2 separate regions of the Homo sapiens genome follow, and region 2 is linked to region 1. A link means that fine-mapping ties the variant in region 1 to the expression of a gene that starts in the linked region. Tissue or cell type: whole blood. Region 1 holds a variant in brackets; the other region holds the start of a gene. All regions are shown on one strand. Distances are between the middles of the regions.

Region 1 (8,106 bases):
CATGCCTGTAATCCCAGCAGTTTGGGAGGCCTTGGCAGGCGGATCATGAGATCAGGAGTTCGAGACCAGCCTGGCCAACATGGTGAAATGCCATTTCTACTAAAAATACAAAAAATTAGCTGGGCATGGTGGCGCATGCCTGTAATCCCAGCTACTCGGGAGGCTGAGGCAAGAGAATCACTTGAACCCAGGAGGCAGAGGTTGCAGTGAGCCAAGATCGTGCCACTACACTCTGGACTGGGCAACAGAGTGGGACTCTGTCTTGGGAAAAAAAAAAAAAAGAAATTGTCTGTCTGTCAATTAATGCATAAACAAACTGTGGCATATGCAATGGAATATTATTCTGCCATAAAAAGTAATGAGCTACTGATAACATGATACAATGTGGAGAATTCTCAAAAACATCATGCTAAAGTGAAAGAAGCCAGACACAAAAGTCACATATATTATTTCACTTATATGAAATATTCAGAAGAGGTAAATCTATAGAGACACACATAGACTGGTGATTGTTAGGAGCTAAAGGGATGGAGGAATGAGGAGCAACTGCTTAAAGTGTAAAGGATTTCTTTTGGGAGTGATGAAAATGTTTTGGAACTGGATAGATATGATGGTTGTACATTATGAGTATACCAAATGCCACTAAATTGCTTGCTCTAAAATGGTTAATTTTATGTTGTGTGAATTTCATCTCAATAAAATTGTTTATTGTCTTACATGTTTAAAAACTAATTCAATTGGTGAAACTTGAATATGGATTGTATATTAGATAACAGTATCCTATCAATGATAAATTTTCTAAATGTGATAATTACACTGTGATTATAGAACTTGTATTTAGAAGATGCATGCTGAAGAATTTAAGGGTAAAAGGTCATGCTGTTGGTACTTCATCTCAGTTTAGTTACAAAAAAAAAAAAAGAAAATGTTCATAGTAGCATTATTTATAATAGCCAAAAAGTGGAAACAATCCTAATGTCCATCAACTGATGAATGGAAAAAACAAAATGTGGTGTCATAAAAAGGAATGAAGTGCTAATACATGCTGCAACACGAACCTTGCAAGCATCATGATTAGTGAAAGAAGCCAGACACAAAGGGCACATACTTTATTAATTATATTGACACAACATGTCCATGACAGGCAAATCCATATGATAGTAAGTAAATTAGCAGATGCCAAGTTGGGTGGAATGGGAAGTAGGAAGTGGCTGCTAGTGGATTCAGGGTTTCTTGTAAGCGTGATAAGAATGCTGTGGAATTAGATAGTGGTAATGGCTGGACAACTTTCTGAATACAGACTATCCCTGACTTAAGATAATTCAACCTAACAATTTTTTTTAGCTTATGATGGTGCAAAAGCCATATGCATTCAGTAGAAATTGTACTTCAAATTTTGATTCAAAATTCATTATCAACATTATAAAACTGGCTTTGCGTTACATTATTTTGTCCAATTGTAAGCTAATATAAGTGTCCCGAGCATGTTTAAGGTAGGCTAGGCTAAGAAAGATGTTTGGTAAGTTAGGTGTTATTAAATGCATTCCAACTTAACAATATTTTCGACTCACAATGGCTTTCAGGACATAATTCTATTGTAAGTCAAGGAGCATCTGTACACACACAAAAAATGGGATTGTATACTTTAAAGATGAATTTTATCATATGTGAATTATATGTCAATACAATCAATAGATAAATGTATACATGCATATAGACAAGCATGCATCTATACAACGGACCATAGAACTAAATGGAAAACCTAAAACTACCAAACATCTAGAAGAGAACAGGGGAAAATCTTCACAGCTTTGAGGTGGTAATAATTTCTCAGGTAAGACACAAAAAAAAGTATAAATCGGCCGGGCGCGGTGGCTCACGCCTGTAATCCCAGCACTTTGGGAGGCTGAGGCAGACAGATCACAAGGTCAGGAGATCGAGACCATCCTGGCTAACACGGTGAAACCCTGTCTCTAGTAAAAATACAAAAAATTAGCCGGGCGTGGTGGCGGGCACCTGTAGTCCCAGCTACTCGGGAGGCTGAGGCAGGAGAATGGTGTGAAACTGGGAAGTGGAGCTTGCAGTGAGCTGAGATGGCACCACTGCACTCCAGCCTGGGCGACAAGAGTGAGACTCCATCTCAAAAAAATAAAAATAAAAATAAAGAAAGAAAAGAATACAAAACATAAAAAGAAAAATTGATGAAGCAGACTTCATCAAAATTAAAAACTTCTGTTCTTTTGAAGCCATTATTAAGAAATGAGAAGACAAGATTGGGAGAAAATATCTGCAAAACACTTATCCGATAAAGAACTAGTATACCCAACACAGATTAAAAAGTTATGACTAGATCATAAGAAAACAACCCAATTTTAAAAAATGGACAGATTTGGAAAGTCACTTTACCAAAGAAGATATACAGATGGCAAATTAAGCACAGAGAAAGCTGCTCAATATCATCAGTAAGTCATGAAAACTATGTACTAGGAATTAAACTCATTAGGAATTAAAACTACAAAGTCTAACCTTTTAAAATCACTAAAAACAAAACCAAACAAAACTTATGAGACTTAAGTGTTGGTGAGGATGCAAAGCATTTGCAACTCTCATACATTGCTAGTGGAAATGAAAAATGGTACAGCCACTTTGGAAAACAGTTTGGCAGTTTCTTATACAGTTAAACATACATTTACCATACCATATGACCCAACAATCTCATCCCTAGGTGTTTATCCCTCCAAAATGAAAATATATTTGTCTAGACAAAATCCTGTATGCAAACGTTTCTATCAGCTTTATTCATAATTGCCAAAAACTGGATACAACCCAGATGTCCATCAGCCAGTGAATGGACATAATGGACATTATGCTAAAATCAAAGAATCCAGACTGAAAAGGCTACTTAGTGTATGATTCTACTTATATGACAGTCTGAAAAAGACACAACTGTCAGAAAATAGATCAGTGGTATGCCAGGGTTTGGCAATAAGGAGGAGGACTGACAAATGAACATGAAGGAACTTTTTGGAGTGACTGTGATTATATGGCCGTATACATTTGTCAGCCATATAATACTGTACACATAAAAAGGGTGAATTTTACTATATATAAATTATATCTCAGCAAACCTGACTAAACAAATTGTATCTTCAAGGCCAATACAGTAGGATAAAGCTAAAATAACTATAATAGTGTGAGAACAGCTGGACACAGTGGCTCATGCCTGTAATCCCAGCACTTTGGAAGGACAAGTGGTAGGACTGCTTGAGTCCAGGAGCTCGAGACCAGCCTAGGCGACACAGTCTGTCTCTACAAGAAATAAAAAGTTAGTCAGGCATGGTGGCACATGCTTATAGTCCCAGCTGCTTAGGAAGCTGAGGTAGGAGGATCCCCTGAGCCCAGAAGGCTGAGGCTGCTGTGAGCTGTGATTATGCCACTGTACTCAGCCTGGGCAACAGAATGAGACCCTGTCTCAGAAAAAAAGCAACAACAAAAAACAGTGTGAGATGATGAGAGAAGAACACATTAAGCAAATAAAGAAATAAAAGAAATTCCATAAACAGACATATATTTTAGGCTTTGTGGACCATATATTAATAGTTTCTGTTGCAACTACTCAACTCTGCCGGCATAATATGAAAATAGTCATTGACAATGACAATAGAATGGCTGTGTTCCAATAAAACCTTATTAACAAAACATGTTGGCCGTAGTTTGCTGACTCCTGGTCTAACCAATAGTGTTGGGACGACTGGCTTTCCATTTTAAAGGAATATAGTAAGATCCTAATTTTATGATATTCACAAAACTAAATTCTAGATACATTAAAAATCTAACTATAAAAAACAGAAATATAATCTTGAATAAATGAAAACTTCCCTAAGAATAACAAAAAATCAAGATGGTATAAAGTAAAACATATGAGACTCTGGGGCCGGGCACAGTGGCTCATGCCTGTATCCCAGCACTTTGGGAGGCTGAGGTGGGCAGATCACCTGAGGTCAGGAGTTTGAGCGCAGCCTGGCCAACATGGCGAAACCCTGTCTCTACTAAAACTACAAAAATTAGCCAGGCATGGTGGCGCATGCCTGTAATCCCAGCTACTCGGGAGGCTGAGGCAGGATAACTGCTTGAACTCAGGAGGCAGAGGCTGAAGTGAGCCAAAACTCCGTCTCAAAAAACAAACAAACAAACAAAATATGAGACCAGCCAGGCGTGGTGGCTCACACCTGTAATCACAGCACTTTAGGAGGCCGAGGCAGGTGGATCACGAGGTCAGGAGTTCAAGACCAGCCTGCCCAACGTGGTGAAACCCCGTCTCTACTAAAAATACAAAAATGAGTCGGGCATGATGGCAGGTGCCTGTAATCCCAGCTACTTGAGAGGCTGAAGCAGGAGAATTGATTGAACCCGAGAGGTGGAAGTTGCTGTGAGCTGAGATCGTGCCACTGCACTCCAGCCTGGGCGACAGAATGAGACTCTGAAAAAAAAAAGAAAAAAAAAAAAAGAGACTCTCCTCCTTAAGCTGGGAGCACAAAAGGCTATATCCTTAAAGTTGAATAAAACAGGCTCACAGCTGAAAGCCTTAGAAAGACTACACTCTAGGAACAGGGTGAAAGAGGTAGATCAAGCTTTTCCAAAACCACAACCACGTCTTGGCACAGCTCAATTCCTGACTGGATTAACACAATCAGCCTCTACTATTATCTGTCTAGAGAGGAAAGTGTGACTTCTCTTTTCAGAGAAAAGTAACATCATCTGGAGTTTCCACCATTGTTATATGCAATGCCTGGGCATTTAATCAAAATTACTAGTAATGTCAAAAGGGAGGATCATTTGCCCAAAGTTCAAGGAACAAACCAATAGGAACAGATTCACATACAACTCAGACATTACAGTTTCCCAAAAAGGACTTTAAAATCACTCTGGTTAACATGTTCTGGAATATAGAGGAAAAAATAAAAATAAATGAAGACGGAGAAGTTCATCAGAGAAGTAGAATTTACTTTTAAAAAATCTATGAACATTCAGCCAGGCGCGGTAATCCCG[C/T]ACTTTGGGAGGCCAAGGCGGGCGGATCATGAGGTCAGGAGATCAAGACCATCCTGGTTAACACGGTGAAACCCCATCTCTACTTAAAATACAAAAAATTGGCCAGGCACGGTGGCAGGTGCCTGTAGTCCCAGCTACTCGGGAGGCTGAGGCAGGAGAATGGTGTGAACCCAGGAGACGGAGCTTGCAGTGAGCCAAGATCGCGGCACTGCACTCCAGCCTGGGCGACAGAGACTCCGCCTCAAAAATAAATAAATAAAAATAAAAAATAAAAATCTATGAATATTCTACAACTAAAAAATATTAATATAATTGAAATTAAAAGCTCAACAGATGGGTTTAACAGTAGACATAGTAGAAATGGGTGAACTGGAAGACAGTAACAAAGATCCAAACTAAAAGCACAGAGGTTAAAAATGGTAAGAATGAAAAAGAATGTAATGGACAAGTGAGACACATTGAAAAGGCCAATGGTCCAACATATGTATAACTGGAGGCCCAGAAAGAGAAGAAAAATTGGACAGGAGCAAGATTTGAAGAGAAAATAGTTGTGTATTTTTCAGAAGTGATGAAAGCCTTCAACATACAGAATCAAGCAGCTCAGAGAAACTCAAGTATAAATACAAAGAAAACCACACCGTGGCATATCATCATAGTAAAACTGCTAAAAATCAGAGTTAAAAAAAAAATCCTTGCTGGGTGTGGTGATCCAGATGATTCACACCTGTAATCCACTTTGAGAGGCTAATGTGCGTGGATTCCTTGAGCCCAGGAGTTTGAGACCAACCCAGGCAACACAGTGAGACTCCATCTTTACAAAACAACTAAAAAATTAGCTGGATGCGGTGGTGCACGCTTGTAGTCCTAGCTTCTCAGGAAGCTGAGGTAGGAGGCTCACTTAAGCCTGGGAGCTCAAGGCTACCATGAGCTATGATTGCGCCACTCCACTCCAGCCTGGGCGACAGAGCAAGATCTTGTTTCAAAAAAAAAAACCTCAAAATAGCAGGGGGTGGAACATATTATCTTCAAATGAAAAACAATAAGACTGACAGTGGAATTCTTTAAAAAAAAAAAAAAGAAAAAACATCTTCCAAAATATGGATGAAATAAAGATATATCCACAAAAAAACACAATTCATTAGCAGCAGACCTGAACTAATATAGTAAAGGGAGTATTTATTCAGGCAGAAGAAAGAAAAAATTATCCGAAGGAAATACAAAAATGTAGACAGGAAGCAAAAACACTAGAAAGGTGTTTCTAAGTGACTACTGGTATTACAAAGTAACAGTAAAAATATTTGTGGGGTTTAAAGCACCTACAGAATCAAACTGCATGACACCAGTAACTCAAAAGGAAGGTACATAACAGAGCTAAAATGTTCCAGCCTGGGCAATAAGGGCAATAAGGTTGAGACCCTGTCTCTACAAAAAGTACAAAAATTAGCAAGCATGGTGATGTGTGCCTGTAGTCCCAGTTACTTGGGAGGCTCAGGTGGGAGAATCACCTAAGCCCGAGGAGGCTGAGGCTGCAGTGAGCCACAATCATGCCACTGTACTCCAGCCTGGGTGACAAAGTGAGACCCTGCCTCAAAAAAGAAAAATAAAAAAAGAAATGTTGTAAAGTTCTAGCATTATCTAGAGGGTAGTAAAATTATAATTTGTATTAGACTATCATAAGTCAAGTATGTATATTGTAATTTTTAAGATACTCACTAGGAGGATAGTAAAAAGGTATATAACGACAGGGGAAATGTGAAATAATACAGTTCTAAATTAATCCGTAAGAGGGCAAAAACAGAAAAAAGAACATAAATCATGAAAATCAAACAGAAAACAAATAGAAATAGGGTATATATCAACTCAAATGGATTAAATATATGAAAAGACTAAAACTGTCAGACTGGAGTTACAAAACATACTAAATATGTGCTGCTTATAAGGGACACACCTTAAATAAAGACACAGATATATTGAGAGTAAAATAGTGGAAGAAGATGTACTAATCAAAAGAACAATAATCAAGAGAAAACTGGTGTAGCTATACTAGTATCAGATAGAGATATCATCTCTAATAACTGGCATGATACATACATTTCATAATAAAGGGTCAATCCTTGAGGAAAATATAATAATTCTAAATCTAAAAATATCCAATAATTTAGTTTTAAAATATATAAAGTTAAAAATTGAGTGAACTAAAGGCTGAAAAAGACAAATCCATAACCACAGTGGAAGAATTAACACCCGTCACACAATACTAATAAAACAAGCAGATAAAAACTTGGAAAGGACGTAGAAAATCTGACCATATCTAACAAAGTTAACTGACATGTTAGAACAATGTACCCAATAATACTAACATATCTTTTTTCATATGTATACAGCATATTTGCCAAAATTTACCATATATGGGTAAAAGCAAGCCTCAACAAATTTCAAAGGATAGAAATAATTCAAAGTACTAAGCTATCAGTAAAAAGATAACCAAAAAATACCCAATTATTTGGATATTAAGCAAATATATAAATAACTCTGGAGTCAGGTAAGAAATCACAAAATAGAAAAAAATATTTTGAATGGAATGAAATCAACACATCACATGCAACAAATGGAACTCATAAAAAGCACAAAATAAGACGGTAGATTTAAACCTCAATATTTCAGTAATTACATTAAATGTAAACAGACTACACACTCTGTATTGGTTGAGACCAATGGTGTCAAGTGGATTAAAAAACAAGAGTCCAAGGATATGCTGTTTATGAGAAACATCTAGAGCAAGGATACAGAAAGGAAGAAAAAGTACAGCTATACCAGGCAAATTCTAACTAGAAGAAAGTTGTCCAAGTTGCATTCACATCAGACGAAAATAGTCTTTAAGGTAACAAAAAGCAGTATAAAAGATAAAGAGGGACTTTCTATACTGATTAAAAAAAAAAGTTTAGTTCATCAGGAAAATGCAGGATTTTTAAATTTGTATGTACCTAATAACATTATCTTAAGATAAATAAAGCACCAAAAATGTATAACCTGAATCTAATAATGAGGACACGAGAC
Region 2 (8,106 bases), 91 kb after region 1:
AGAATTAAGTGGATTTACCAGCAACCCTTGGCATAATACCTAGCAGAGTAAGCACTCAGTAAATGGTAGCTATCATAAGAAATTCTACAGGATCAACAACCTGGTTTCTTCAAGAAATAAATTCAAGGGGGTGACAGAAAAGCTACAAATTAAAAGTCTTAAGAGACATATCAACCAAATGCACTGTATAGACCTTGTTTAGATCTGGATTTAAATTAGCTACAAAATAATTATGAGACAACTGCAGAAATTTGAATATTGATCCCATATTTGATGACATTAAGGAATCACTGTTAACTTTTTAGGTTTGATAATGATACTATGTTTTTTTAAAAGAGTATCATTTAGAGATACATAATAAAATATTTATGGATAAAAGGATATAACATCTAGGATCTGCTTTAAAACAATCTAACATGAGGGAGTATAGATGAAGTAAGAGTGGCCACTTGCTCAGCTGGGTGCGATGGCTCACGTCTGTAATCCCAGCACTTTTGGAGGCTGAGGCTGGTGGATCACCTGAGGTCAGGAGTTCAAAACCAGCCTGACCAACATAGTGAAACCCCATCTCTACTAAACATACAAAAATTAGCCAGGCATGGTGGCAGGCGCCTGTAATCCCAGCTACTCGGGAGTCTGAGGCATGAGAATCGCTTGAACCCAGGAGGCAGAGGTTGCAGTGAGCCAAGACTGCACCACTGCACTCCAGCCTGGGCTACAGAGTGAGACTCTGTCTCAAAAAAAAAAAAAAAAAAAAAAAGAGTGGCCATTTGCTCATAAGCGTTGAAGCTAGGTGATGGACGTATGGGAGGTCACTGCACTACTTCACTTTCAGAAATTTTTGAAATTTTCCCTAATAAAAAGTTTAAAAACAAAAGTAAGTAGAATTGAGCAACTGGTAGCTGTGATGGTTACTATTTTTTCATGGATATAGAGTAGAGTGTGGCTTATCTTTGTTGTCCACTCTCTTCCCCAGAGGGTCTAACCCTGACTCTTCTATGGATGATACAAGCTCAATGTAAACCTAATGATATCAAACCACTCCTTCGTTGTTTTTTTTGTTTTTTTAACTGCCCATAGCCCTCTTAAGATCCCTTGCTTTTTAAAACACTTTGATAGCTTCCCTCTACTCTACGGGTAAAAACCCCAATTCATAATAGAGCTGTTTGCTTTTAAAAGGTCCTATTTCTTTAGCCTCAATTCAGTTCACCTCCTCTTCATACTCTGCACTTGGCCTTTTTTCTGTTCCTCAAATGAGTCATACTCAGTCCTACCACAGACCCTTAGCACTTGTCCCTACTGCCTGCTATACTTCTCCCCTCACCCTCCAACCATCTTTCATCTGATTACTTCTACTCTTTTTTCAGATCTCAGCTCAATCTTTACTTCCTCTAGGAAGGCCCCACCGACCAGCCACTCCACCAAGCTAAACAATCCTCCACGTATACACTCTCATAATCTGTCATACACCTCCTCTTTATAAGACTTAGCAAAAATACGATATTAAAATTTTGTTTTTGTTCATCACTGCATTCCCAGCACTTAGCACAGGGCCTGCCTAGAACAAGTGACCAATAAATATTTATTGAATAAACAAATAAAATGAATTATGATGCATTGACAAGTAGGCCCCCCTTGAGATCTTCCCACTGCTGCCAAAAGACCTCACTGAAGGGCTTGGCATTAAACTGTTAGACATCAAAACTCCCAGTCCTCCCTCACCAGTCATCGCCTACGTTGAAGGCATTAAGACTCTTGGTGAAGCCTTGCATATTGGTGGGGCTGACTCTCTGCAGGAAGTCAATGTAGTCCTCGGAGTGGAAGCGGCACATGTCATGTTGGGAGGCCTGGTATGGCTTGAAGACCTCGGGATGGAGACACAAGATGAACCCAGGCAGGGTCAGCCCCACTCCACAGGCTCAGACCACCCATACTGAACCCAGTCCTGGAGACTATATGAAGCCAAACATAGCATTCCCCTCATCCCACAATCCTTAAGTCAGTAGAGAGACTCCGATTAACCAGGTAAGTTATTACAAATGAGCCCCCTGAAGACCACTTCTTTTCCTTTCCACCTCCAGCTCAGCCTATCGTACCTTCTCAACTTTGAGCCCTGATCCACCTGCCCTGTTCCTTGGAATCTCCTATTCCCAGTTCTCTCCATGCTCATCTCCTCCCCCAAGCTCTGATTCTGTCCTCTTTCCTCTGGATTCTTCTTTCTGGAGTCAAATATATGGGATATATGTCAACTTTCTAATTAAAATCAAAGATTTATTATCTTTGGAAGGTCAGGGGGATGTGTCACACCTCTTTGAAAACTGCACAAGAAAGAGCTTTTCTTCTCCCAGAAAATGCACACAGGTACATACAGGCAAACAATCTCAAGGGATATAGATTCCTGCACTAACATCACCTCAGTCTTTTCTATGACCAGTCCATTTGTCTGTGCCTTGGCACAAGCAATGAACATTCATTCATATTGTTCACTAGTTTCCCTAGCAACACATAAAGCCTGGGTTTAGCTGTTTTGTCTTATTTTTTCTTTTGAGACAAGGTCCTCCCTGTCAACTCAGGCTGCTGATCATAGATCACTGTAACTTTAAACTCCTGGGCCCAAGCCATCCTCTCGCCTCGGCCTCCCAAGTAGTTGGGACTACAGGCACACCCACCGCACATGGCTACTTTTTTTATTTTTATTTTTTGTAGATGTGGGTCCCACTGTGGCCCAAGCTGGTCTCCAACTCCTGGCCTCAAGCGATCCCCCCCATTTCAACCTCCCAAAGTGCTGGGATTACAGGCATGGGCCACCACGCCTGGCGTGGCTTAACTGTTACTATCCCATATCACAGCCATAAATTCCAAGCTGGGAAGACAGCATGTGTATGTCTGGTAGATGAAAAACTGGATAGCGATTAAGCAGAACCATGTAGAGGTATTCCAGGCTGAAAAAGGAATATCTAAAATATCGCCTCTGTTCCACACGCACATACACATTTACAAAGACGGCAGCATCGTTCCACCCTGGAGCCCTAGCTCCTTGGAGGTAAAGAAAGGTGGTAAAAGAGGAGTGGGAACTGAGGGTAAACCTCACACCCTGATACAGTGATATCCGCTCCCCTAACCCTAATTCCTGAGGCCAAGGCCCTATCCACACTCTAAAATGCAGAGGAGGAACACACCTTCTGTCTTCAAACCAGCCCCACATCACGCTAACCCTAGGCCAAGGGCTAGTGTGCCTACAGTCAGAGGGTGGCCGACCTGAGGTGAGAAAGTACTTTCCATTAAGCAGAGGACGCCACCCCCAACACCCTGCACTTTCAAGGTACTCCTGGTGACTTCTATCCAGCTCCCCGATACTCTAGGGGCGGGTCGCACTTCATGCACTCAGTCCAGCCCACCTATCCCTACGGCCACAGCTCGCCCCACCCCCCAACCCCCGGCCGAGGCGGCGGAACTCACGATCATCTTCTTATAGAGACCGTAATGCAGGACCAGGCTATGGGTCAATGCCAGGCGATGGGGCTTCATAGGGTGTCCAGCTCCTGGGGGTGGGGAGAAGAGAGTTCGTCAGCTCTCACCCCTGGAGTTGCAACCCCGCCTCAAAACCTCCGTGTCCCAACCCCTCATGCATATCCCTGTTTCCTCACCGTAGTGGAAGTTGCCCACGTCGGGGTCGTAGAAATAGGCCACGGTCTTGGCCATGGTGCCGGCGGGAGCAGGCCCCGCACCTCCGCCGCCCGCCGCCCGCGGCCGCCGCCAGCCCCTCCCCGGCCGTGCGTGCTGCGCAAGCACGTAGCCGGCCTCTGCGGAACTGGGCGTTGCGGCCCCGCCTCCATCCACACCCAGGCCACGCCCCCAGGGGAGCTCCGCCCCTCGCCCGGCTCAGCTCTCCCGGTATCTGGGGCTTTGAGCGTCCCGGGTTGGGCAGGGAACTGGCAGCATAGCTCCTAGGATGCGAGGGCCATTTGTCTCCGGCCGGGGGTCAGATCCTCGGGAAGCCGAGCCATCCCATCCAGCCGCTTGCCCCAAACCGGGCGCAGGCCGTGGTCACTTCTCTAGGAAGCTCCGAAGATCCCGCCACTCCGTCCCTCAAAGGTGCGGAAAGCCGGCTTCCCCCAGCCCTCGGAGAAGATTCCTGACTCTCCGCTCGGTCGGGGCATCTGAGGGCAGGAGCTGCGCCAGGCGTACCGGATAGACCAGTGGACAACACCCACGCCGGACCGCCTGTCCCCTACCCGGACCCAGACTCGGCGCCGCACATTGCCCCGGGGGGGCCCGGCGCAGTCACGCGCGCGCAGAGCTCACGCTCTCCGCCCCGCACACCTGCGCTCCGCCCCCTGGTCCTGGGCCCGCGACGGGTGAAGGCATTTGGGAAGCCAGGGCGGCTGCGGAGGCGATCTCCCTGACCCAGGGCCGGAGTTGCCCGGAGCCTGCCACCGCTCTCAGCCAGCCCGCATCCTTCTCTGTTCTTCCCTCCCCCCGCCTGCCACGGCGCGGGTATCCGCAGCCACAGCCCGGGGCCGGTGAGGCGGCGAAGGGGGAGGGGAGGAATCAAGGGATGAGCGCCGGAAGGGCGTCGGGGGCCCTGAGCCGCACTAGGACGCCCCTGGAGCCGGAACCCCAGCAGAAGCCGGAACCAGAACCAAATCACCGGTACCGGGTCGGCCAGGTGGTCAGGGTGGGAGAAACCAAAAAGGGAGAGGGGTGCGGGAGTACTGAGAGGAAGGGGCTGCAGAGGCCTGGCTCAGGCCGGCGTGGAGGAGGTGCGGGCGCTGACTCAGGCAGGATTTCTGCTCCCGCCGCCTAAGAATGCCGTCCCATCTCGTGCTGCAGTGTCCTTGGGAGGGACAGAAGCGCGAACAAGCTGGAAAGGGGAACGCTCGGGGCGTCGGGGAAGCGGGACCAGGGTCGTGGTAGAGAGCTTGCGTTGCCGCTGACCTCTTGCCGAAAGGCGAAACAGCACTCCTGGCCCGGACAGCTCCCTGGTTGGGTAGGGGGTGGGGCCGGACCTCAGCCGGACGTCTTAGACGTGCTTGTTTCAGATCCTGAGGACGGCATTCCTACCCCTCCCCCATTCCCAGCTGCAGCCCCCTAAACCCAGGAGGCGCCCTGGCCCGCGCTCGCCCCCCAGGGCCTCATGTCGGAACCACAGCCTGACCTGGAACCGCCCCAACATGGGCTATATATGCTCTTCCTGCTTGTGCTGGTCTTCTTCCTCATGGGCCTGGTAGGCTTCATGATCTGCCACGTGCTCAAGAAGAAGGGCTACCGCTGCCGCACGTCGAGGGGCTCTGAGCCTGACGATGCCCAGCTTCAGCCCCGTGAGTGAGGAGCCTGGAACCCTGGCTCAGTCACCTTTCACCCTTCTCCCCACACCTCTGCCTCCCTGACCAACAGACCCAGGCCAAATCCTGATCAAACCTGCTCAGGAAGCCTAGTGATGCACTCTTGAGTTAGCAAGTGGGGTGACACCACTCTGAAAGCAAAACTAGAGAAAGCAGCATGGGCAGGAACGGTCCTCTGGATGGTAGTCTTGGGCTTGCATTGGTGTCCCCATCTTTTCTGGTCCCTGAAATGCTGAGGTCCAGCATGATAGCAAGTAGGTAAAAGGGTATGTCCTAAGCAATAAATGATGGGAGCCACCAGGTAATATTCCCCCAAAGCTGACTCATTCCTGCTTCCTTGCCAATCTCTTTCATCCTTCAGCTGAGGACGATGACATGAATGAGGACACAGTAGAGAGGATTGTTCGCTGCATCATCCAGAATGAAGGTGGGTCTAGCATAGCCCCTTGCTCCCTCTTCTCCAACCTTCTCTTGCCCTGACCTCCACCTCCACTGACTCCCTCTTTTCCTTCTTCCCTCAGCCAATGCTGAGGCCTTGAAGGAGATGCTGGGGGACAGTGAAGGAGAAGGGACAGTGCAGCTGTCCAGGTGAGCTGGAAACAAGGGCCAGCATGACTTAGCTTGCCTTGGAGAGTATCCTCTCCTCCAGCACAATCCTCTCCCAGCCTCCTTGCATGTATGGGGTTGGGGGAAGGGCAAAGCTGGCTAACTTATAGGAAGAAAGTTGTTTTGTAGAAATCGCGATTCCTTCAAACCATCTCTCTCATCTAGATATCATCAAGCCTAACATTCACCTCTAGTGCCACTCCTTTGGGTTAAGCAGTGTTCTTTTTAGCAAACAGCCCTGGGAGGAAGAACATATGGTCACTAACATCTTAATATTGAGTTTATTAGATAAAGACAAGAAAAAATGGGGCTTGGGGAAATTGGGGCTTCTGGGGTTTTAAGGAGCATGCTGAAAGAACGTAAGAAACAAAACATGAAGGGAAATGGAAATGTTACCCTCACTCCCCTCCTCCCTGCTGTCCAGTGTGGATGCCACCTCCAGCCTGCAGGACGGAGCCCCCTCCCATCATCACACAGTGCACCTGGGCTCTGCAGCCCCTTGCCTCCATTGCAGCCGCAGCAAGAGGCCTCCACTTGTCCGTCAGGGACGCTCCAAGGAAGGAAAAAGCCGCCCCCGGACAGGGGAGACCACTGTGTTCTCTGTGGGCAGGTGGGGCAGGTGCTCCAGGGAAAGGGGGGCTGAGGTAGGGGGCCCAGTGATCAGGCACCTGATCCCAAAAGTGGGCCTTGGCTCTTTCCTCCTGGACTGGGAGCTCCGGCAGAAGTCAGGCTACACAATGTGCCCCACAATCTGAGAAGGCCTCCCCTACCTTAGGCCAGAGGGAAGTAGCCACCAAACTCAGGATGTCCCTGGTCAGAGGGGAGGGCCAAGCAGCCTCTGAGTTGTGGTCCTAAACCCCAGTGTTCCCTCCCCTCCCAGGTTCCGGGTGACACACATTGAGAAGCGCTATGGACTGCACGAACACCGTGATGGCTCCCCCACAGACAGGAGCTGGGGCTCTGGTGGGGGACAGGACCCAGGGGGTGGTCAGGGGTCTGGGGGAGGGCAGCCCAAGGCAGGGATGCCTGCCATGGAGAGGCTGCCCCCTGAGAGGCCACAGCCCCAGGTCCTAGCCAGCCCCCCAGTACAGAATGGAGGACTCAGGGACAGCAGCCTAACCCCTCGTGCACTTGAAGGGAACCCCAGAGCTTCTGCAGAGCCAACACTGAGGGCCGGAGGGAGGGGCCCAAGCCCAGGGCTGCCCACTCAAGAGGCAAATGGGCAGCCAAGCAAACCAGACACTTCTGATCACCAGGTAGGAAAACACAGCCGGGACTGCACTGGGCTGGGCTCTTATTGCTCTCTACTCTGGGGGGCACTGATAGGACCTACTCCTGGTCTCTCATTGTTGACCCCTCCCCTTTCTCTCAGGTGTCTCTACCACAGGGAGCAGGGAGTATGTGAGGTGAGTCTGCCTGAGCCCTAAATGAGGTAATCTCATCTTCCCATCACCTACTTAAACTATTTAAGCCTTTCGGCTCCCTGAACCCCCCGAGTAAACTGCAGGCTTAGCCTTTGCTATAAATCCCTTGGTTTGGTGGTGGAGGTAGGGAAGGTCCTGGAGCCCCAGGGGAAAAGCTGGACACAGCTTGAACAGGAAGCAACAGTGTTATTCTTCCTCTTCTCCAAGTCTCCTTCATTGTGCTGATGGACTACCAGCTGGCAGGGCCAGGGGGTGGGTGGGCGTGAAAGCCCTCCCCTCCACTGGACAGCACTGCCCCCCAGCTGAGGGACCAGCTCTACTTCCACCTGGAGTTGCACAGTCTCAGGCTGGGGGCCTCAGGAGAGGTCACAGCCCCTCAGTCTCTTCTCCTTCCCCTGCCTGCAACAGGCTGCCTGCCCCGCCTTCCCCAACACCTCGCTCCATATGATAGAGCGTGGCAGCTGGGAGCAGGCCCCTGCCCGTGGTGGGCCCCTAAAGCAATAGCACCGTAGGCCCCCTGCCCTCTTAGCACAAGAGGCCCAGGCCCTGGCCTGGCCTTCGTGCCCTTTATTCATTGTCAATAAATCCGCTCAGACCATTACAGCTGCTTCGCATCCTGGCTCCAGCTCCTGATTCCCAAGGCCTGTTCCTCTCCCCAGCCCAACCCCAGTGACCCTGGCATCCAGAGTGGGGTGGGTCATGGAGCCAGGGTGGGGAAAGAGGTGGGCCAG

Evidence for each region. PIP is the estimated chance that this variant, and not a neighbour inherited with it, causes the effect.
Region 2: it holds the start of RELL2, and the variant in region 1 is fine-mapped to the expression of RELL2 in whole blood (TOPMed, PIP above 0.99).

What each region holds. Positions count from the first base shown.
Region 1 is chr5:141,542,169-141,550,274 of GRCh38, forward strand. All of the region lies in intron 18 of DIAPH1 (diaphanous related formin 1), which reads right to left. Among named protein-coding and RNA genes, the nearest start is that of DIAPH1-AS1, 12 kb to the right of the region's middle. RefSeq lists a silencer at 5,520-5,720. The variant C/T (reference allele first, on the strand shown) is at 5,050.
Region 2 is chr5:141,633,089-141,641,194 of GRCh38, forward strand. It overlaps RELL2 (RELT like 2), which reads left to right and starts at 3,909. Exons shown (of 7, transcript NM_173828.5): 1 at 3,909-5,321; 2 at 5,707-5,772; 3 at 5,867-5,933; 4 at 6,376-6,561; 5 at 6,832-7,207; 6 at 7,324-7,357; 7 at 7,583-7,976. The coding sequence starts at 5,138. The coding sequence ends at 7,356. It overlaps HDAC3 (histone deacetylase 3), which reads right to left and starts at 3,761. Exons shown (of 15, transcript NM_003883.4): 1 at 3,648-3,761; 2 at 3,460-3,542; 3 at 1,723-1,865. The coding sequence starts at 3,702. FCHSD1 (FCH and double SH3 domains 1) reads right to left here. Exons shown (of 20, transcript NM_033449.3): 20 at 6,214-8,106. RefSeq lists enhancers at 1,081-1,210, 4,448-4,497, 5,198-5,317 and silencers at 3,234-3,528, 3,538-3,587, 3,648-3,937.